Regions from separate parts of the Homo sapiens genome. Here region 2 is linked to region 1. Evidence: fine-mapped expression QTL. A gene starts in region 1. The other region holds a variant in brackets. All regions are shown on one strand. Distances are between the middles of the regions. Region 1 holds the start of FBXL15 (F-box and leucine rich repeat protein 15). Region 2 overlaps GBF1 (golgi brefeldin A resistant guanine nucleotide exchange factor 1).

What was found.
Region 2: its variant is fine-mapped to the expression of FBXL15 in whole blood (INTERVAL, PIP 0.94).

What each region holds. Positions count from the first base shown.
Region 1 is chr10:102,414,327-102,425,841 of GRCh38, forward strand. It overlaps FBXL15 (F-box and leucine rich repeat protein 15), which reads left to right and starts at 6,510. Exons shown (of 4, transcript NM_024326.4): 1 at 6,510-6,856; 2 at 7,028-7,181; 3 at 7,461-7,966; 4 at 8,478-8,810. The coding sequence starts at 6,804. The coding sequence ends at 8,667. It overlaps PSD (pleckstrin and Sec7 domain containing), which reads right to left and starts at 4,459. Exons shown (of 17, transcript NM_002779.5): 1 at 4,375-4,459; 2 at 2,059-2,795; 3 at 1,691-1,793; 4 at 537-903. The coding sequence starts at 2,712. It overlaps CUEDC2 (CUE domain containing 2), which reads right to left. Exons shown (of 9, transcript NM_024040.3): 2 at 10,789-10,872; 3 at 10,323-10,466; 4 at 10,173-10,234; 5 at 9,938-10,068; 6 at 9,670-9,852; 7 at 9,472-9,533; 8 at 9,331-9,391; 9 at 8,923-9,246. The coding sequence starts at 10,862. The coding sequence ends at 9,100. RefSeq lists enhancers at 6,428-6,897, 7,808-8,137, 8,368-8,427, 8,618-8,667, 8,758-8,817 and a silencer at 7,138-7,307.
Region 2 is chr10:102,247,093-102,258,607 of GRCh38, forward strand. The region is part of intron 1 of GBF1 (golgi brefeldin A resistant guanine nucleotide exchange factor 1); the gene reads left to right. Among named protein-coding and RNA genes, the nearest start is that of GBF1, 7.3 kb to the left of the region's middle. The variant A/G (reference allele first, on the strand shown) is at 4,468.

The DNA of each region.
Region 1 (11,515 bases):
AAAAAAGAGCCTCTAGGGTAGGGCGCCAAGCTATTCAGTGCCCCCTGGGGCACACCAGCCCTACCAGTCCCCAGCACCCCATCCCCTCCCTCCCTGCTAATCTCCCTTTCTCCTCCTTTTCCGTGATCCGCTTCCCTTCTGCCATCCCATTTCTATTTCTAGCAACATCTTAGGAGAAGATGAGGCTCCAAGCGACACTGGGGTGTGAGACGGAAAGGAATGTCCCCACACTCCCCACTCTCCCACCAGGATCCAGGATCCAGACTCATGCTCCTGTGTTCCTGGGCTTGACTGTGGCCTCTGGCCTCTCACCCTGCCCCCTGTTCTGCTAGAACCCCTGGCCTCTTTGCTCCCCACATCCCCAGTGTTCTGCCAAGCCTCAGGCCTCTGTCTAGAATCTCCTGCTATACACACTGCCCCGCCAGCCCCACACCCATCTCTATCCCAGGCCCTTTGAGCCCGGCTCTGCCTGTGGGCCAGTGCGAAGGAGCAAGCCGCTTCCCTCTCCCACTTCCCCCTCCCACTTCCCCACTCACCGGGCCCCTTCAGAGGCCTCAAACACCTCGTCGTCCACATCTTCTTCCCCACCTGCCTCATCGTCGTCCTCATCCTCATTGCCACTGCCGAGGCTGGGATGAGGGCCAGGGAGTGGGCCGGGCCGTGGGGCAGGTGGGTAGGCAGTGCCTGGTGGGCCCTCAGAGCTGGGCTGACTTTCGATGGCCGAGTCGGCCTCCTCCCGCTCAGCCAGCACCTCATCGATGTCAGTCTCGCGGTAGCACCTCAGGGGCACCGTGTCCAGGTCTGTCTCGGAGTACTTGGCTGCTCGCCCCACAGCCACCCCAGAGCCCTGCCTTGAGCCCACCCCAGGTGGAGATGGGGGGGCCTGCTCTGGGGGCTTAGCACCTGTAGTGTGCATAGGCATCCAGGTCAGGAGGTTATCCACGTCAGCTCCCTGTCCTAATTCTGCTCTAGGATCTCTGCCCACTGCCTCATATTGACAGGAAGTTCTTTCACTGTCTAGCCACCATTCCTCCTGCTACATACTTAGCTTGTTCCTGGTGCCAGTGGAGCTCATTTTAAATCAAGTTCTTGTCAAATGGCTTTGAGGAGCTGGGGGAAGACCAGCCTTTTTCTGTCTTTTTTATTTATTTATTTATTTATTTTGAGACAGGGTCTCACTGTGTCACTGAGGCTGAAGTGCAGTGGTGCAATCATAACTCACTGCAGCCTTGACTGCCTGGACTCAAGGGATCCTCCCACCCAACCTCCCCAGTAGCTAGGACTATAGGTGCACACCACTACATCCAGCTAATTAAATTTTTGGTAGAGACTTGCTTGTTGTCCAGGCTGGTCTTGGACTCCTGGCTTTGAGCAGTCCTCCTGCCTTGGCCTCCCAAAATACTGGGGCCACTGAGCCCTGCTGAGCCTCTTTTCTACTCCATGGAATGCCCCTCAATATCCTTCTGTCCCCTCCCTCCATTACTCAGCTTCCTCCAGGTGCCCTGCCCAGTCCTATCCTCCAGCCTCCCATCATAGCGCAGATGGAAAGATTGAGGCCTGGGGAGACATTGGCTGACTCAAGAGCCAATTCCAAGGATTGGGGGAAGTTTGAAGGAGGGCTCCCTACTGAGCCTCAGCTGCTGTGGGGAAGGCCCTGCCCTGTTCTCCCTGCCTCAGTCCCAGGCCTTACCTGAGCTGGGGGGGTCCAAGGAGCCATAGAAGAATTCCCATTTGGCTCTAGCGATTCTCTGGGCATGAGAGGAGACTTCCCGGGGGGAGGACCAGGTATCCCCCTGAGCCAACGAGGGAGACACAGGCACCCAGAGATAAAGCCAGACATACAAGGACACAAGAATATGGGACAGAAACAGAAATTAAAACATGCATCGACAGAGATGGAGGTTCAGAGACACAGAGACAAACACAGAGGGCAAGAGAGAGGCAGATTTAGAACAGATTAAAGGATTCAGAGTGAACAGCAGACAAGCCCATGTCTGACAGGAGGCTGAGCCTTGCCCCTTCACTGGGGGCCCAGGGAGCCCAGGGGAAGTTGCATACCTGGTTCAGGAATCCAGTGTCAGCAGGTCCTCCGAAGAGTGTGGCCAGGCGCTCAGGGGGGCCCCCCAGCCCATTGGGGAGAGAGGAGTAAAGGCCATCTGCTCCAACCTGGGGTGGGGCTGGCGGCCCATGTACAAGGTTCCGGCTGCCAGGTAGGGCCGAGCCTCCTCTGGCGGGGAGTGGGTCTGATGTGGATGCTTCCAGCCGTAACTTCCGGTTGGAGCCAGGCCCAAGGGCTGGGGTGGGCCTGGGAGGAGAAACCCCACCCAGATCCCAGCTCCGACTCAAGCCCCCTGGAGCAGGTAGCCCATTCAGTGGCCTCACACTGGCCTTCTCCACAAAGCGGAAGATGACCACAGAGCTCTGGGCCCCGGGTGGGGGCTGCCCAGTGGGTGAAGAGGGTGCCCAGGGTGAGGGAGCAACACGGGGTGAGGGGGGGCCACGCAGAGGTGTACAGGGTGCTGTCACACGTCCCAGTTCCCGGCCTCGAGGACCTGGACCTGCCACTCGCCGTAGCAAGGAGCCTGTGCTGCCATACATGCTGGCTGGGGGGCTCTGGGGCACCGGGCCTTCGGGGAGCCAGCGGCGTGGGCATCGTGGTGGGGAGATGGCACAGTCGCCTTCCGAGCAGAAGCGCATGGCACCCTGGGCCATGCTGGGGCCGGGGGTCAGGCTGGGGGGGCAGGGATGGCGAGGCCAGGCGGGGAGTAAGGGGGCTGCATGCTCTTCAGACAGGCCTGTAAGAGAGGAAGGGGAGCATGGGGTGAACTGCCAAGGAGTTAGATGGATAGGACAGCAGAGATAGGGAAGGGAAAGTTGGCTAGGGCCTCTGAGTATCAGGGACCTAGCACACCCTGGTAATATGGGATCATTGATCCCACGCCTGGGGACTACTTCCATAGAGGCCTGACGAGAAAAGACTTATACACCCAGTGGGCCCCTGGCTCCTTTCCTTCTGCCTGAGGCCCTGAGCATCACCCTGGGAGGAGAGAGGAAGCAACTTCAAAGTTGAGTGAGCCCGGAGTTCTTATGGCACTTTGGAGCTACTTCTAGAATAGGGGAAGTTGGTACCCCACCCTCTGGAAAAGGGGTGTCAGCCAGCTGTCACCATCATACAGCCCTGTGACCCCTATAGTCTCTCTTATGGAGGCCCCTCACTCAGGGAAGGGAAACTCAGGCCTCCTGGAAGGAGAGGGAAGAGGAACAGGTGTTATATAGGGATGCTGAAGGGCTGAGAGGCACAGCATGGAAGTGGGGAGAAAAGCCTGAGCAGAGGCTCCTACCCCCAATATATACATACTGAGTGGGAAAGGGACATTCTTCTTTTTTTTTTTTTTTTTTGAGATGGAGTTTCGCCCCTGCTGCCCAGGCTGGAGTGGAATGGCGCTATCTCAGCTCACTGCAACCTCCGCCTCCCAAGTTCAAGTGATTCTCCTGCCTCAGACTCCTGAATAGCTTGGATTACAGGCGCTCAGCACTATGCCTGGCTAATTTTTGTATTTTTAGTAGAGATGGAGTTTCACCATGTTGTCCAGGCTAGTTTCAAACTCCTGACCTCAGGGGATCCACCCACTTTGGCCTCCCAAAGTGTTGGGATTACAGGCGTGAGCCACCGCACCCGGCCAGGGACATTCTTTTCTTCATACAGGTACAGACAGGCACCTACACACACACAAACACACACACACACACACACACACACACACGCACACACATACATAAGGACAAATATGTCAGTACACAGTTAAACACATTCATAGGCAACACCCTCTGGCACACACACAGACACACACACACACACACTGCTCAAAGACACACCCTCATGCACTCTCACAGTCATAACAAGTATGTGTGTAATGAAAAGGCACATGCTTGTTTTACACACACACCATCATCAAACAGGAACACACAAAGAGGTACCCAAATATATACACAAGCTGTCATTCTCCAGTGCACACAGAGGTCCAGGTGTATCAGACACTCACAGAGACCTACTGCTCACAGTCACATACACATACAGATGTACACATACAGATGTACACACTCAAGCAGGGACACACACCGTCCCCTCCCCCCCACCTACTGGGGTCTCTTGAGGGGAATCTGCACCCATATTCCTCTCCTCTCCCTCTCTCCCCAGGGGTAAGACAGATCCCGCCCAGGAGAGACCATAACCAGGTAAAGGGGCCTCTGGTGGCAATGCAGGGGAGGGGCAGAGGTCAGGAGTAGCAACCCTGCCAGGCAGGTTCCGGAAGCTCAACGGGGTCCCAGCGCATACCCGGTGCAGCCCCAACTCAATGCCACCTCAGTACTCACCGCTGCTCGCCCAGAGCTGAGACCGAGGAGAGACAGAGGAGAGGCTGGGCCCAGCTGAGCTGTGAAGGCAGCGCGGCTCCCGTTTGCTCCAGGCCCGCCCGCCTCTCAGTCCCTCCCCCTACCCCCTACGCGCCGCTCAGGCAACGCTAATCCCCCCCACCCCCCGCCCTCTCCCAGGGCCCAGAGCCCCGGAGGCTGCCAGCCCCCCTTGTCGCTAGGTCCCCGCTGGGCTCTCCCGCCAACCTAAGACCCGCCCCAGACAAGGAGGAGGGCGCATGGAACCCCTGGTTCTATTCCCCAGACCCTCACGTGCCCCACCCCACTTGTGTCCACGTCTCTCTCGCCCACCGCCCCTTGAGCCACACGTAAGGCCCGGCTGCACACGCGTGTCCCGCTCCAGACCCCACGCGTGTCCCTAGGAGGCTGCCACATGACCTGTTACATGCCACACGCGCTCCCGCCCCCACGAGCACGCGGCCGCGCCAAGCACACGGTATGGGTGTAGACTGGACCCGCCCCCTAAATCCAGGAGACCATCAACTATGGAAAGGAGATCTAGGGAACACCGTCTTGAACCCGCCAGGGGTTTTGAGTCTCGGACCCAGGAGATCCAACCCTGACCACCCTCCCAGGATGCAGCAGGGGGATGTTAAATCAGACTTCAGGAAGAACTTCCTTGCTGCCTGAGTTAGGTGTCGTCACGCCTGCCCAGGGGTAAGAGGTTAGACGGGATGAACTAGGGACCGGAAGACGTGGGGGACCGGCAACCCTTGTGCCCTTGGCCAGGGTAGAAGGGGGCCCTGCTATTTTAAGAAAGAGCCGCTGGAGTTACTATGGCAACTACTCTCTTTGGGAGGGCCAGGGCGGGCAGATGGTGACCTCGGAAGGAAGAAGGGGTCTGTTCGGGCAGTCAGGGGGCGCGAGGACGTGCGAGGCGGGGGCGCGCGGGGCTCACCGCGGGGAGGGGCGGCGCGGACTCCGCGTGGTGCTGAAGGGGACAGCGCCAGATTTGTCGCACTGCGCAGGCGCAGAGGCGCGAACAAAGAGGGGAGGGGGACGAGGCGCGCGGCCGGAGGTGGTGCGCGCTCACGTGGCTCTATCTTTGCAGGGGTCTGTCCTCCCAGCTACCCCCTCCCTAAGCAGGCTGAGGAAGAAGAGATAGCAAGCCCTCACCTAACTTGACCCCTTTCTTGTCTCTCCCCGCTGCTAGCTTCTCCCTTCTCGCTGCCTTGCGGGGTGGGGAAACGTGGAAGGAATTCTGGGAAAACCAGATGTCTGGGTTCTCTATTCCCGTCTGGCTTGATTCTGGACAAGGGGCTTCCTCTCCAGGGCCTCGGTTTCCCCATCTTTAAAATGGACTGATAGCATAGACCTGCCCACCTTTCAGAGGTGCCCGAAGCCTTGACGAGATAACAGATGAGAAGTGGTTTTCGTTGTGATGAGCCAGCTGAAGCGGTTGCACCGGAGCGCCAGACCGTCAGCGGTGCAGTGGCTCTCGCGTCCTTCACATCCCCCCACACCCATCCCGTGGATGATGGGGGAAGGCACTACTCCTGGGGTTCCCCGAAGCGGATCCTGGGACTGGGACCTGGGGACGCGGTGAGAGGCAGCCCTGAAGCTGAGTCCAGAGGTCTGGGGCGTCATTGTCCCAGGGCGGACCCAGCCCCAGACCCTACAACTAAACCCAAGGCCAGCCGAGAAGCACTACCACTGGCGGGCTGAGCTGAGCTCTCATTCTTCTTAGGACTCTGGACCTTTGGAGGAAATGAAAGGGACCCAGTTGGAAATATAGTCTTTCTTCGCGCCCCCTACATCTCTCTCCCCCGGCGGAAACGCGGCCCAAACTGTTACGAAGTGGAAGAGGCTGGATAGCTCTTCATAATTAATCAGGAATGGGAGGTTTGAGCAGGTTTACTTGATGAGGGAAACATTATAGCCTCGCCAATTCATTCATTATTTCAACAATTACTTATTGAACACCTGCTACGTGGCAGACAGTAAGAGCCTGGATAGTTTCTCCCCGTTTTTCAAAGTCGCTAAACGCGACCAGAGGGCAGAGGAGAGGCCGGTAACCTAAGAGTCCTGGCTCCGCCCCCTCCGCGTTTGGCCTTGCCTGCTCCTCCCACCACCACTTCGCTCAGAGGCGGCTACTGGCTCAAGAGGACGACAGAAGCCAGTCTCTGATGCCCACCGCATTCTCCAGCTTCAGGCCTCAAGCCCTGTAGCCGAGAAGGCGAGGCCTAATGTTACACCACCGGTCTGTTCCGCCTCCGTTTCGGGGTCCACCCGAAAAGCTTTCAGATCGGATCCTCGGTGAGACGGCACTCGATTAAATAGGTCTGTCTCTACAGGCCAAGGAGGCGGGTTTGGTGCGGCCACTCCAAGGCCAAAGCGAGAAAATCTTACTGCGCACGCGCAATAGACAGCCGATGGAGCCACCGATGGAGCCGTCCGGAGGGGAGCAAGAGCCCGGAGCCGTCAGGTACCGAGCACCGGAGGGGCCGAGAGGGAAGAGGAACCTGAGGGAGGGGAGCCGAGCCGGGGCTGGGTCTGGGGGCCGCTCTTGGGAGCTGGGGCGCAGGAACATAACGGAGGCGGACTCGCAGGTAATAGTGGCCCCGGGACGCCAGTGCCAACGCCCCTTTACTCGCAGGTTCCTGGACCTGCCCTGGGAAGACGTGCTGCTCCCACACGTCCTGAACCGGGTCCCGCTGCGCCAGCTGCTCCGGCTGCAGCGCGTTAGCCGGGCCTTCCGGTCGCTGGTGCAGCTTCACCTGGCCGGGCTGCGTCGCTTCGATGCCGCGCAGGTGAGCCGGGGGCTGAAGCCCCGCCCCTGCCTGGGTACCGCCCCGCCTCTAGCCCAGCCCCCAGCCCCGCAGTATGCCCTTCTGGACCCCCTTGGGCCGCCGGGGCTGCCCGGAAGGGATCCACGCACCAAAGGGCAAATACTCGGTAGCGACTCAGAGGGAAAGTGGGGTCTCTCCTGGGAGAGCAGGAGGCTGCCAGAAAAGAACTCAGGTCAGGGGTGCATAGGCGGCTGAGGAGTGCGGGACGGGCTGAGAGTTGGGGTGCCTCCCCGCCCGCAGGTGGGTCCGCAGATCCCGCGGGCCGCATTGGCCCGGCTGCTGCGGGATGCCGAGGGGCTGCAGGAGCTGGCACTGGCGCCGTGTCACGAATGGCTGTCAGACGAGGACCTGGTGCCGGTGCTGGCGCGGAATCCGCAGCTGCGGAGTGTGGCGTTGGGCGGCTGCGGGCAACTGAGTCGCCGGGCGCTTGGGGCTTTGGCCGAGGGCTGCCCACGCCTGCAGCGCCTGTCGCTCGCGCACTGTGACTGGGTGGACGGGCTGGCGCTGCGCGGCCTCGCTGATCGCTGCCCGGCCCTGGAGGAGCTGGATCTCACCGCCTGCCGCCAGCTCAAGGACGAGGCCATCGTGTACCTGGCGCAGAGGCGCGGCGCTGGTCTCCGCAGCCTCTCTCTGGCCGTCAACGCCAACGTGGGGGACGCCGCGGTTCAAGAGTTGGCTCGGAACTGCCCAGAACTCCACCACCTTGACCTCACCGGCTGCCTCCGCGTCGGAAGCGACGGTGTCAGGTGCCTGGGCCTGATAGGGCGGGAGGAGGGCAGTCACTTAGCCTCTGCTGGTATGGGGCGGGCTGTAGTTGTTAAAAGGCCGGACTGAGGGTTCTGAATCTTCCTGCAAACCACAGCACCCCCATTCTGAACAGAAAGGGCCTCTAGGATTGCCTAGGCCAGAGAGCCCATAGTTTAAAAACTTTTTTCAACCAATGTTTACACATTGGGAGATTTCACATAGAAAGTCGACTTCTGGCTTTTCTTCAACAAGGGGGAGATCTTGCAATCCTAGGCGGAGCTGAGGGCCAGGTTCCCCCCTTAAATGAGACAGGAAGTCTCCAGCTCACTGGAAGCCAATCCAGGCGCCTCCCTTGTGTAGGGACGGAAAAAGTATGCCCCTGCCCCGAGCTGGAGGGAGACCGGGATTTTGCCGGAGCCAGTCCGAGGCTGAGTGAGCCCGGGCCTCCACCTTACCCCACCAAAGGTGTGGTGGCCTCATGTCCCTAGCCTCACCCTGCTCCTCCCTCAGGACATTGGCCGAGTACTGCCCCGTGCTGCGTTCGCTGCGGGTGCGGCACTGCCACCATGTGGCGGAGTCCAGCCTGAGCCGCTTGCGGAAGCGCGGCGTGGACATCGACGTGGAGCCGCCGCTGCACCAGGCCCTGGTGCTGCTGCAGGATATGGCGGGCTTCGCACCTTTTGTCAACCTGCAGGTCTGACCCGCCTGCCAATCGGAGCACAGCTGGACTGTGTGGCTGGGGCCTGACACTGAGCTGTAGGGAAACTGAACTGTGAGGACCTCTGGTGAGAGGCCAGTGCCCTGCCCCACCCTGGAGCTTCAAATAAAGAGCTTTTTACCCCCTCTTGCCTGGTGCTGCCCTGTTGAAGATAGGGGATTCGAGGTTGGGGAGGAAAGGTCAGACAGGCATAGTATCCCAGTCCTGAGGCAGAAATGACCAGAATGCACTCACACCTTCCTTGGGCCACCTTTACTGTGCCCATGGAGGCAGCTCCGAGAGTAGGTTAACACTATGGAGCAAAGGAGTAGAGAAGGGGGACAGGAGTTAGGGGGCCCCTGTGTAGGGGTATAGGGCTCCTGCATCCCTCTGGGATCTGAGCCTAGAAGGCTCGGGCAGAGTCCGGCGAGTGCCTCAATGGAAGCGGTACTTTCTGGCTGGCTTGAGGTTGATGTATGTGGCCTTCATCTCCTCGGCCTCAGGGTTCCGCACATCTTTGAATCGCTCCCCTTTGGTGCTCACTACCTGGTTGTCGATGTATCGGATCAGCTTCTTGGGGGCCTGTCAGGCAATCAGCAGTGAGTGGCAGAAGCCAGGAGCCAGTCCCACCCATTCCGCATCCCCAGCAACCCTTAACTCTCTCACCTCCTTGGGAGCCATGGGCCGGTGAATCTTCTGATCCTCTGCGCTATCCACCATCATGTACCTGTCAAAAACTGGCTGGGTGAAGCTCCTGTCACCCTGGGAAGACCCTCTAGGGCCCAGCCCAGCCCAGCCCAGACTCACTTCTGCAGGATGAAGGACTTCAGCTCATCCTTTTGGGGGCCTCTGAGGCGTCTGGGCAGGTCCTGCAGAGAGGGGAGGCCTGGTCTAGGCCCAAGGGCACCAGCAGGGGAAACAGATGGGGATAGGTAGGGGTTGGGGCTTAACACCAAGGTGGAATGTAGCTGAGGCTACATGGTAGAGGGTGCTGGGAAAAGATACCTGGTTGGGGCCCTCCCAGGCTGCAGGCCCCTCTTCCTTTCCCTCTACCAGCATCTGCACAGCTTCTTCCAAGTCCCCCCGAGCTTTGGCCAGCACCCACTGGGCCTGCTCCACCGAACAGGTAGGGAACACCTCCAGGAGTACATCCACCCCTGGCAGAAGCTCCTCCTCAGCGCCAGTTGCCTAAGGGTACAAACGTTAACAAGAGGCAATACTCCCCCCTTTCCAGCCCCCTGGGTCCCTCATCGGTACCCTCCTCTACCAGTACCTCATCTTGGGTGTCTGCAGCAGCAGCAGCCGAAGACCTAGTCTCTTCTTTGAGCATTTCGGGCCGCTGCAGGGGCTCTGGGGAGATGGGCACCTGACCTTGGACACCAGAGCTCTGCGGTTGCAGGTTCTCTTAAAGAGGCAAAGAGAGCATCAGGTTTGCCAAGGCTCTGGGGAGCAGGCAGTTGGGGGAGCGGGATTATGAATCACTCAGGTGCCCAGAGCCCCAGACTCACCTTTGTTCCTGGCATCGCTCAGCTGCCCTGAGAGCTTCTGCATCATGTCCCCTATTGTGCCCCTGAAAAGATGAGGGCAGTGAGAGGATGACTCTGCCCACCCCATAATCAGCCAGCCCCTTCCTCCTCCTGGCCCTAGCCAGAACCTACCTGGGGATGTGGGCGAAGCCAGGCACATAGGCCTCCATCATCTCAGTGAAAGCCTCCATATCGAAGTTCTCCTCTGATGGGCCCGAGGGGCCCAGGTCCTCCAGGACCCCAAGCACATAGGAGAAGATGACCTCATCCAAGCCACTGCAGGAAGGGAACAGGACAAGCCCTGGGTAGGACACTGGATGCCTCCAGCACCCCCACCTATCCTGAGACTCCAGCCCTCAGCTTCATGGGGTCTATGAGCTAGACCTTTATCTTTAAGGCCAGAGAGTATAACCCCCTCCCTCAGAGCTATGGTTTCCCATCTGCCCAACAAAGGTGACAGGGACAGGATGAGAGGTAAGGCCTCTCAGCAAATCCTAGTCAGCCCTCCTGCTGTCTTTCCATCAGCCAGTACCCATAGTACTGCCCGGCAGCTCCAGCTCCAGCACTGACATGAGCCTTCCGGGGGACCCGTCTCTACCTGAGGTCGGCCTCCGGGAGGTGTGTCTGGACAAAGGCAAGGAGGGCTGCACTGACGATCCTCTCCAGCTCCATGCTCTCTCTTCTGAAGGGACACAGACAGGATGGCCAGGCCTTCTTCTGCCTGCCCCCACCCACTGGGCCTGGGGGCAGTGGCTCCTCCCTCCTGGCCTGCTATGGAACCATCTGTTGATGCTGCCCTCTCTGTTCCCCCAAGTAGAACCATGCCCCCTCCTCCGCCCATCTCACCTCCTTCAGCCTGAGACAGGACAGGGCACTGTGTCTGGAGACAGCCTCTAGAGGAGGCGCCCCCCCACCTCTCCCCACCCCCCTACCTCTCCCCACCCCCCTACCCCATTCCCCAGCAGCAGTCCCAGACCTTCTGACAAGGTCTTGGGGTCACATGCCTCCTGGCTCAGGAATCCCATCACTGAGGGAGCCCCTTGGCCCCCAAGTCCAATCACAAGGGGCCCCATTGTCCAGCCCCTCAAGGCTCAGCCTCAGGACCAAGCACAGCCCTTCCCCCACCCAGAACAGGCCACCCACCCTCTGCACAAAGGGGCTTTTCTGGCTCTGGGGCCCAGATAGAAGGGGAAGCCTTTCATGGATTCTCTCTTCTCGCCCAGTCCCTGCCCTTCCTGCAGCTTAGGACTATCTGCACAGCACTTTCCATCCTCCTCCCCAAGGCCTGAGGAGCCCACAGATCTGGCCCTCTCCCAGCTCTCCAG
Region 2 (11,515 bases), 170 kb before region 1:
TCAGGAACACTTTGCACTTTTGCATGATGAGGTAGTAACAAGGAGGATCAAAACCTCATAGTGTCAGAAGAGAAAACTATTTAGGATCTTGGAATGACTAACTCAATTTTTCCTACCTTTGTCCTTATGAAATTGAAATTTCATAATTTCCCTTTTCCCTTCCTACCTTCGTCCTTATGAAATTGAAATTTTTGTGTGTGTTGGGAGAAGGGGGATGGCATTATTTATGCTTCACCTGTGTTGATTTAGATGGAAATGGTACAGGAAACTATTTGCATTTTAACTTGCTGATCTAAGTTGTAGAATTCCTCCCCTCTCCCCGCCCCCAAGAAAGTAGTTGAACGCAGCAAATGAAATGACATACCTCAGGAGGTACCCAGGTTTGATGATCCTGCCTTGCTCACTTGGGCCATTGCCCTGTTGAGTTGATATGCTTTGCATAACAGGCAATCTAGTCTCTGGGTAGGCAGTGTGATCAATCCAGGATCCAGTCATCCTCAGTTGAGCCTAAGGGTGACTATAGAGGCATCAAAACGTTTTCTCTTTCTCTCTCTTTCTTTTTTTTAATCCTAAATGTCATTTCTAGATAGGAATAATTTTCTAGATAGGAATAATTCCCACTCCTACCCACAAATCAGAAAATTCATCCTTCAAATACAAGTCCCAAGCTTGTATTTGAGCTTCTTTTTAATGGTGTTTGTAGACAGTATGTTCCAGTCTTGACAGTGATGCTCATTGGCACAGTGGGAACTCAGGCTATAGACATATCTCCTCAGTAGCTGGGCACCAATCCCAGTTTCAGCTCAGAGTTCTCAAAGTTACACTACTATTTTATTTCCCTCTTTTCCAGAAGTCAGGATGACTGCCACTTTCACATAATAACCTCATTGATAGGGTACTTAGACTGGCTGCTGTGGGCAGCTAAAGAGGAAGAAGACACAGCTCTTGCTTTTGAGGAGACTCTATTTATAGAGTACTCACTGCAAGGATCACCCTAATCTTTGTATGACACTTCTCATTGATTGATCACACACTATATCCCTGTGGCTCTGTGTGACTGATTAGAATGATTCTGTTGTTGGGTTAATGGTGGGATTGAATTTAAGGGTGTATGTTTTTGTTGACATTTTATCCTCAGGCTAGAAGAGCTATGTAAATATAATGAGCTGCTGTTTAGCTGTTACTCTTTTTTTTTTTTAATATTTCAGTATGTTCAACTGCAGTTGTTTAACTAAATGAAAATATAATAAAGCAGTGTGCTGATTTGGAACCCCAATAATAATAGAAGTGATCATAGAAGTGATTATTTGTTCTAGTAGTAGTGGAAATTACGATAGATGCAATAGTAGTGTAAATGATCATGGAAGTATGATGGCAAAGTAATGGTTTGCCAATCATATAAACCAGGGGTTACGAGCTCATGTGCCTAAATGCCAGGCAGGTAATGTAAATGAGTTAATTGAGTCCCATGGGAATGTATTAGGATTAGTGGGGACTGTTGTGTACTGGACAACCCATGCCTTTATTTTTTTTTTGTCTTTAATTTTAATTTCTTTTTATTGAGACAGGGTCTTGCTCTGTCACCCCGGCTGGAGTGCAGAGGAACGATCACAGCTCACTGCAGCCTTGACCTCTGGGCTCAAGTGATCTTCCTACCTCAGCCTCCCAAGTAGCGGGGAACACAGATGTGCGCCATCATGCCCAGCTAATTTTTTAATATTTTGTAGAGACAAGGTCTCACTGTATTGCTCAGGCTGGTTTCGAACTCCTAGACTCAAGCAGTCCTCCCACTTTTGCCTCCCAAAGTGCTGGGATTTTAGGAATGAACCACCATGCTCAACCCATTCCTTTATTTAGAAGAGCCAACTGCTCCTTTTTCAGCAGATTGTTACTGTTTTAGAGTGCAGGCACAGAATGACCACTCTTTCTATTTTTCAGGAGAAACTGGAAATTTAGATCATTGTGTTTTCTAATTGTTGGAAACTAGTTAAAAGTATTTTTAAGCCTTTTTCAGGCCAAAGAAAATATGTCTGTGGACTGGATTCTGCCCAATGGTTACTGGATGATGACCCTCAATAAACAAAATGGGCAGGCCTTATGAGACTTAATCACTGCAGTTCTCTATACATAATCACATAGACTTTTTTTCTTTGTCCTACTCTGCCAGCTGTCACCTTTGTACCTTGGGTGCCCTGAGTGGCTAAAAGATGGAGTGAGATAGAGAAGGTTTGTTTTATTTTTCATCTCCAAGCTGGCAGAAGGGACAGCTTTGGACATATTAGTAGCTTACCTTGTAAACGGTTTTTGAGATACTCTCAGAATCTCCACAGGGGGAGGAGATGGCATGCTAGAGCTGAGGTACCCTGGTCACCCGATTATCAGGTCTGGGAGGATTTTCCAGTGATGCATTGTCAGGGCACCAGCTTTTTTCCCAGTTTAACCTTCTTTTACTTCCACCCTTTAAGTAAATTTCTTGAGCTCAGTAAGTTGTTTCCTAGTTTAGTAACTTTGGTTATTCTCAATAAAGCACAGAACTATGATGTGTTCCTAGGCCAGCTCTGGAAATGTTAAAAGCTCTGCATCTTTAGTGTTTCTCTGGCTTTTTTTTTTTTTTTCTCTGATGGAGTCTTGCTCTGTTGCCCAGGCTGGAGTGCAGTGGTGTGATCTTGGCTCACTGCAACCTCCGCCTCCTGGGTTCAAGCAATTCTCCTGCCTTAGCCTCCCAAGTAGCTGGGACTACAGGTGCACGCCACCACACCCAGCTAATTTTTGTATTTTTAATAGAGATGTGGTTTCACCATATTGGCCAGGCTGGTCTTGAACTCTTGACTTCGTGATCCGCCCACCTCGGCCTCCCAAAGTGCTGGGATTATAGGTGTGAGCCAATGCGCCCAGCCTTCTCTGGCTTTTAAAGGTATTGAGTGAACATAAACCTTAGAAGGGCCTATTGCTGGTCCTTTAGCTCCCTACTACCATCTACCTTTTCAGAAAGTCCATCAGTTTTTCTTGGTTTGCCCAGCTCTGTATTAGACACAAAGGCATCATGAAAAAGAAAAACAAAATTGCGCTTTTGCCTTTGGAGAATTTATTTGCTAGTTGGATAAGAATAATTTTTTTTTGAGACAGAGTCTCTCTCTGCCACCCAAGCTGGAATGCAGTGGTGTGAGATCTCGGCTCACTGCAACCTTTGCCTCTCAGGCTGAAGTGATCCTCCCATCTCAGCCTCCTGAGTAGCTGGGACTATAGGTGCGTGCCACCACGCCTGCCTGATTTTTGTGTTTTTTGTAGACACAGGATTTTACTATGTTGCCCAGAGTCCAGTGGTGTCATCATAGCCCATTGCAGCCTTGATTTTTTTTGGCTCAACTGATCCTCCTACCTTAGGCTCCCTAGTGGCTGGAACTACAGGCATGTATCACTATGTCCCACTAATTTTTTTTTTTTTTTTTTTAATTTATGTTGCCTAGGCTGGTCTCTGACTCCTGAGCTCAACCATTCCTCCTGCTTTGGCCTCCTAAAGTGCTGGGATTAAAGATGAGAGCTACTGCACCTGGCCAAGGAAATGTTTAAAAGTGATTAAGAGGCCGGGCGTGGTAGCTCATGCCTGTAATGCCAGCACTTTGGGAAGTCAAGGGAGGCAGATCACCTGAGGTCAGGAGTTAAAGGCCAGCCTGGCCAACATGGTGAAACGCTGTCTCTACTAAAAATATAAAAATTAGCTAGGCGTGGTTGTGGGCGCCTGTAATCCCAGCTACTCGGGAGGCTGAGGCAGGAGAATCACTTGAACCCTGGAGGTGGAGGTTGCAGTGAGCCGAGATTGCGCCACTGCACTCCAGCCTAGACGACAAGAGCGAAACTCTGTCTCAAAACAAACAACCAAACAAACACAAAACCAAACCCCATAAAAGTGATTAAGAAAAAAAAAAAAACCACTTAAACACTAGTGTACTAAAAACAGCTATTTAGAGCCAAAGAAAATAAGGCATATATGAAGAATTGACAGTTACATTAAAAATTATATATTTCACAAAAATGTGAATGTGCAAATAACACTTAAGGAGATGTCAGGAAGATAGACGTGAAAAAAGAAGCATTATGATATGGCTGGTAGGTAAATGTGGGTTCTTTTTACCTGTATGGAAGGTTTGTAACTTCTGGTAGAGAAGCAAATATATATTATCAAAAAAAGGTTTGCCAGTGTGGCTCAGAGTTATTGTCTTCTATGAAGTCATTTTTCTCATGAGGTGGATGTGTGCTGTACCACTCTTGAAGAGTCAGTCTTGATGTTATTTCATTTGTTCATCTAGTATTTATTGATCATTTTTCTTACTATGTGTCAGGCTTTGGAGATAAAAGGGTAAATAAATCATGGTCTTTCCCCCTGAGATAGAGCCTGATAGTCCCATGGTGGTGATACACTAAATAAATAATTATAAATTAGTATAAGATGTGTTTATTTTTATTTTC[A/G]TTTATTTATTTGAGGCAGAGTCTCACTCTGTCACCCAGGCTGGAGTACAGTGGCACGATCATACCGCAAGGCAACCTGGAACTCCTGGGCTCAAGTGATCCTCCTGCCTTAGCCTCCCAAGTAGCTGGGACAACAGGTGTGCGCCACCACACCTGGCCAATTTTTCTTTATGTTTTGTAGAGACAGGGTCTCGCCATGTTGCCTAAGCTGGTCTTGAACTTCTAGGCTCAACTGATGCTCCCTCCTTGGCCTCCCAAAGTGCTGGGATCACAGACATCAGCCACTGTCCCCAGCCAAGATATGTTTAGAGATAACTACAAAGTGCTGTGGGTGGCCGGGCATGGTAGTTCATGCCTATAATCCCAGCACTTTGAGAGGCCGAGGCAGGCAGATCACTTGAGGTCAGGAGTTTGAGACCAGGAGTTTGAGACCAGCCTGGCCAACATGGTGAAACCCCAACTCTACTAAAAATACTCTGCTAAAAAAGTGGAAAAAAGGGCTGGGCGCAGTGGCTCACACCTGTAATCCCAGCACTTTGGGAGGCCGAGGTGGGCAGATCACCTGAGGCCGGGAGTTTGAGACCAGCCTGACCAACACGGAGAAACCTCATCTCTACTAAAAATACAAAATTGGCCCGGCATGGTGGCGCATGAATGTAATCCCAGCTGCTGGGAGGTTGAGGCAGGAGAATCGCTTAAACCTGGGAGGCAGAGGTTACGGTGAGCCGAGATTGTGCCATTGCACTCCAGCCTGGGCAACAAGGGGGAAACGCTGTCTCAAAAAAAAAAAAAAAGTGGAAAAATAAATAAATAAATAAATAAGTGGTTTTAAGATTGTTCTTAGAACCACTGTGATATTCTGACTCCCTCATTGACTTTTGGATGGAATGAGTAAGGGTTTATCAGGTGGACAAGAGTGAGAAAAAACATTCAGAATAGAAAGGGAGCTTCATATGCAAAGGCAAAGAGGCAGCAAAGACCATGACTTTAAAAAGTAGGAATGATGTGGCGTGGTGGCCCACACCTATAATCCCAGCATTTTGGGAGGCCAAGGCAGGCAGATTGCTTTGAGCTCTGGAGTTTGAGACCAGCCTGGGCAACATGGCAAAATGTTGTCTCTACAAAAAATACAAAAAAATTAGCCAGGCATGGTGACTCATGCCTGTAGTTCCAGCTACTTGGGAGGCTGAGGTGGGAGGATCGCTTGAGCCTGGGAAGCAGATATTGCAGTGAGTCAAGATTGTACCACTGCACTCCAGCCTGGGCGACAGAATGAGACCCTGTTTCAAAAAAAAAAAAGGAACTTTTTAACTTTTTAGGGTCTTTTATTTTATTTTATTATTATTATTTTTTGAGCCGGTGTCTTGCTCTGCTGCCCAGGCTGGAGACCAGTGATGCAATCTTGGCTTACTGCAACCTCCACCTCCTGGGTTCAAGCAATCCTCCTGCCTCAGCCTCCTGAGTAGCTGGGATTACAGGCCCCTGCCATCATGCCCAGCTAATTTTTGTATTTTTAGTAGAGTGGGGGTTTCACCATGCTGGCCAGGCTGGTCTCAAACTCCTGACCTCAGTTGATCTGCCTGCTTTGGCCTCCCAAAGTGCTGGGATTACAAGCATGAGCCACTGCCCCCAGCCGAGGGGCTATTTTAGACAAAGAATATGTGTAGCTTATATGGGGCACCAATGGCTGCCACCCAGCTTGAAAAATAACATCACCAAAACTGAGGCTGCATGTATGTATGCCCTTCCCTGTTAGTTCCCCCACACTCCCTGCCGCTTGCCACTATTCTCAATTTTTTTGTGTGAGCTTCTCTGGGGTATAGTCCTAGAAGTGGAATTGCTGAAATATAGGATATGAAGTGCTTTAGCTTTGTAAGATAATGCCAAATTGTTATTCAAATTCATATTAATTTAGATACATACCAGCCACTTGGTCTGCATTTTTTACCAACTTAAAAACAATTTTTTTTTTGAGACAGGGTCTTACTCTGTTGTCCAGGCTGGAGTACAGTGGTGTGATCGTGGCTCACTGCAGCCTTGACCTCCTAGGCTCAAGTGATCCTCCCACTTCAGCCTCTCAAGTAGCTGGGACTACAGGCACATGCCACCATGCCCTACTAATTTTTAAATTTTTTGTAGAGATGGAGTTTTGCTATGATGCCCAGGCTGTTCTCAAACTCCTTGGCTCAAGTGATCCTCCTGCATCGGCCTCCTAAAATGCTGGATTATAGGCGTGAGCACCTGGCCTTTTAAGTATTATCAGATTTAAAGTGTTTTGCTATTTCAGGAATGTAAAGTGGTATATCATTATAATCTTATTTTGTAATTTTCCTGATTATTAATGAAGCTAATAATCTTTTCATATATTTATTTGCTGTTTATGTTTCCTATTCTGTGAAACACCTATTCATCTCTGTTGCCAATTTTGGGGAGGGGTTATATGTCTAGTTCTTATAGTTTTGTAGCAGTTATTGTATACTCTGGATATTACTCCTTTATATTAGTTATATGTGCCTCAAATATTTTCTTCTGGTTTGTGCCTTATCTTTTCCCTCTTTTTTATGTTGTCTTTTGAACAGGCATTTTTAATTTTAACATGGTTGAATTCACCAATTTTTTAAAGAGGTTTTGCTTTTTGTTTCTTGTTTAGGTACTTCTCCCTTATGCTGAGTTTATAAAAATACTCTCCTGTAGCCAGGTGCTGTGGCACACACCTGTTGTCCCAGCTACCCAAGAGGCTGTTGTGGAAGGATTGCTTGAGCCTAGGAGTTTGAGTCCAGCCTGGGCAACATGGCAAGACCCTATCTCTAAAAAAAAATCAAAAAGAAAATATTCTCATATATTAGCTTCTAAGAGATTTCAAGTTTTGCTTTTCATATTTAAATAACCTGAGATATATTTTTGGTATTCCATTAAATAAGAATACAATTTATTGTTTCTTTTTCTCCTGCTTTTGTTGGATATAGACAGAGTTGCCAAGTGATACAGTGACTCCTCTTTGGATCCTGTTGAGGTAACTGGGATGCCACAAAGCACTAGGGGAATGTTCTAGACCCAGCTTTAAATGGACAGTGGTTTCAAGGGTACATGTTACTCAGAGTCTCTGGGCCAGTGGCTTATCTGGCTAAGGGTGTTAGTTGGTATTTATTTAGTTGTTCCCTCTCTTATTTATTTTTTTCTATTAATTTTTCATTTGTGTGGGTACATAATGAATGTATTTCTCTTGTTATTTCTGACACAAGATAAATCTTAAGTTCGTTTCTACTATACTTTTATGAGGTTTCTGCAGGCCTTTATGACCTTGTGACAAGGGATTTCTTGGCCATTGGCTACCAGGCAGCAAGTGGTTCATCAGTTTCCCATCTGAAGCTGAAGGGCACAACTGTTTGGAGATTCCCTGAGTGAGGGGACATACTCAGAGACCTAGAAGGAGATTAGGCAGCTCTGCATAGTACTTGAAAATAATTCCTCTTCATTCCCTAGATGTTTCTTTTTTTTTGAGACAGAGTCTCACTCTGTTGCCCAGGTTGGAATGCAGTGGCGCGATCTCGGCTCACTGTAACCTCCACCTCCTGGGTTCAAGTGATTCTCCTGCCTCAGCCTCCCAAGCAGCTGGGATTACAGGTGTGTGTCACCACACCTGGCTAATTTTTGTATTTTTAGTTGAGGTGGCGTTTCACCATGTTGGCCAGGCTGGTCTTGAACTCCCAACCTCAGGTGATCTGCCCACCTCAGCCTCCCAGAGTGCTGGGATTATAGGCGTGAACCACTGCGCCCAGCCCTAGATGTTTCTTTTTTACAATGATTTTTTGCTTAGACCTTTGCTGTCTTAGAAAGTGGTTACTTCTTTTCTAAAGGGCTTATTCATTTTTAGTCAATCAGCTGATTAAAATTTAAAAGTAGTTAATAGGTAATATATGTTTGTGACACAAAATTCAAAAGGTAAAAAAGAATATACAGAGAAAAGTTAGTCTTCCTTTCACTCCTCCACCACTCAGTTCCATAGTCATCCAGTTTCTTTCCCTGGAGGCCGTAACCTCTTAGCATTTTCTTACAAGTCCTTCCAGAGACCTAGAGCATATTCATCTTGCCTACATAATTTAAGGAAAGGGAAATACCAGGAAAGATTTAATCTTTTCTCTTCTGATACTTTAAATCATTTTTGAATATATCTTTCTTCTATTTCTAAGTTCTCCTCCTCCTCAGAAGAGAGCGTGGTTGTACATTCATATCATTGACACTTCTCAGAAGAGAACGTTGTTGTGTTCCTAGAGCATTTGGAAAGCAGATAGTCTTCTGAGATTAACCTAGTTTTTTAAATTGTCATTAATATAAATCTTGTGTTGGATTCCCTTGTGGACTGGGGAGCTGTCATGGGCATGGACACATTATTATTATTATTTTAAGACAGAGTCTCGCTCTGTTGCCCAGGCTTGAGTGCAGTGGCACGAACGCGGTTCACCGCAGCCTCAATCTACCGGCCTCAAGCAATCCTCCCACCGCAGCCTCCCTGGCAACTGGGACTACAGGTGTGCACCACCACACCTGGCTAATTTTTGTATTTTTTATAGAGACAGGGTTCGCCATGTTGCCAAGGCTGGTCTCGAACTCCTGGGCTCAAATGATCTGCCCACCTCAGCCTTCCAAAGTGTTAGGGATTACAGGTGTGAGCCACTGCGCATGGCCCCTGGACAAAATTTGTACCAGTTTCTTTTTCCTTTATCATGGTGGTTTTCATGCTTTTCACTTTCTTGGGGGGCCTCATCTTATGCAAAATATGCAAATTGAGCTACTTGCTAGGTACATTTCTTTCTCTATTATCTCTGGCTGTGTCTGTTTTTGTATCTATTCCACTAAACTGTATAAATGCCTCAAGGACATAAATTATATACCTCTTATCATTATTAATGTTTAATTATATTGATAGTACAGTAATACATTCTCTTTGTAAAAAAAAAAAATTTTTTTTTTTTTGGGATGGAGTCTGGCTCTGTTGCCCAGGCTGGATGGAGTACAGTGGCATGATCTCGGCTCACTTTAACCTCTGCCTCCCAGGTTCCAGCGATTCTTCTGCCTCAGCCACTCGAGTAGCTGGGATTACAGGCGCCCTCCACCACACCTGCCCAATTTTTGTATTTTGAGTGGAGATGGGTTTCACCATGTTGGCCAGGTTGGTCTCGAGCTCAGGTTATCTACCTGCCTTGACACTCCTGAAGTGCTGGGATTACAGGCATGAGCCACAGTGCCCGACCTTCTTGTAAAAAGTTAAAATATTACAGATCCAGCCTGGGCAACAAAGTGAGACCCCATCTCTACAAAAAGTACAAAAATTAGTTGGGTTGGTGGTGTGCGCCTGAAGTCCCTGCTACTCAGGAGGCTAAGGCAGGAGGATTGCTTGAGCCCAAGAGTTCAAGTCTGCAGTGAGGCATGACAGTGCCACAGGACTCCAACCTGGGTGACAGAGTGAGACCTTGTCTCAAAAAAACCCCAAAAGACAAAACGATTACAGATAAGGCTCAAGTATCCTCTGATTGCACCCTGTTTTCACAGCACCTTCTCTAGGAATAATTATGGTTATAAGTTTGGGTATATTAGCACAGACCTTTTATTTTATATTTACATATCATATTAATGCTTTCTTGCTGTCAGTTAATATGAGTTTTCAGAACTTTTCAAAGGTCTTGTCACTGTCACTGTCCAGTTTTCTGGAGCTGACTGGGCAGATTGGATGCAGTCATTTGTTTATATTTATATTTATATATTTTTAGAGATAGTGTCTTGCTCTGTGACCCAGGCTGGAGTGCAGTTGTGGGGTCATAGCTCACTGCAGCCTCGAACTCCTGAGCTCAAGTGATCCTCCCGCCTCAGCCTCCCCAGTAACTAGAACTACAGGTGTATGCCACCATGCCTGGCTAATTTTTTAGTTTTGTTTTTTTGGTAGAGACTGGGTCTCACTGTTTGCCCAGGCTGGTCTCAACTCCTGGGCTGAACTGATTCTCCTGCCTTGGATTCCCAAAGTGCTGGGATTGCAGGTGTGAGCCACTTCACCTTGTCTGGATGCAGCCTTTACGCTGACATTGCAACTGTGGTTCTAAACCAACACTATGCTTCCAACAACCTTTATTCTTTTCTTTAACTTGAATCTTTAAATTCAAGTTAAATTTTTATTGAGTAGATTAAAAAGAACAAAGGGAAGACTATATACTTAGGAGAGAGCGAGAGAGAGTGTCTCGATATGCTGCCCAGGCTGGTCTTAAATTCCTGGGCTCAAGCAATCCTCCCGCCTCGTCCTCCCAAAGTGCTAGGATTATAGGCATGAGCCACCATGTCTGGCCAGAAATATTGTTTTTAACAAGCTGACATTACAGTTGTATCTGTGTACTTAAAGGCATCATAGGACTTTGGGAACAATTGACTTTGAAGAATTTGACATGCTTCCTGAGGATTGTTGAGGTGCCTTTGAAAAATGTTCTGGATTGACTCGCTTTGAGTTGTATCTTGAACTACCTTGAACTTCTAAAGACCCCCAGGAGAGCCAGATAGTTGGATTCATAACATAAGATGGACTTCATCTCATTTTAGTATTACAGATTTTTTTTTTTTTTTTTTTTTTGAGGTGGAGTTTCACTCTTGTTGCCCAGGCTGGAGTGCAATGGGGCGATCTTGGCTCACACAACCTCTGCCTCCCAGGTCCAAGCAATTCTCCCATCTCAGCCTCCCGGGTGGCTGAGATTACAGGCATGCGCCACCTCGCCTGGCTAATTTTTTGTGTTTTTAGTGGAGAGAGGGTTTCTCCATGTTGGTCAGGCTGGTCTTGAGCTCCCGACCTCAGGTGATCCACCTGCCTCTGCCTCTCAAAGTGCTGGGATTACAGGCCTGAGCCACTGCACCTGGCTAACAGATTTTATGAGTATAGAAAATTTTGGTACTGGCCAGGTGCAGTGGCTCACGCCTGTAATCCCAGCACTTTGGGAGGCCCAGGCGGGTGGATTACCTGAGGTCTGGAGCTCGAGACCAGCCTGACCAACACAGAGAAACCCCGTCTCTT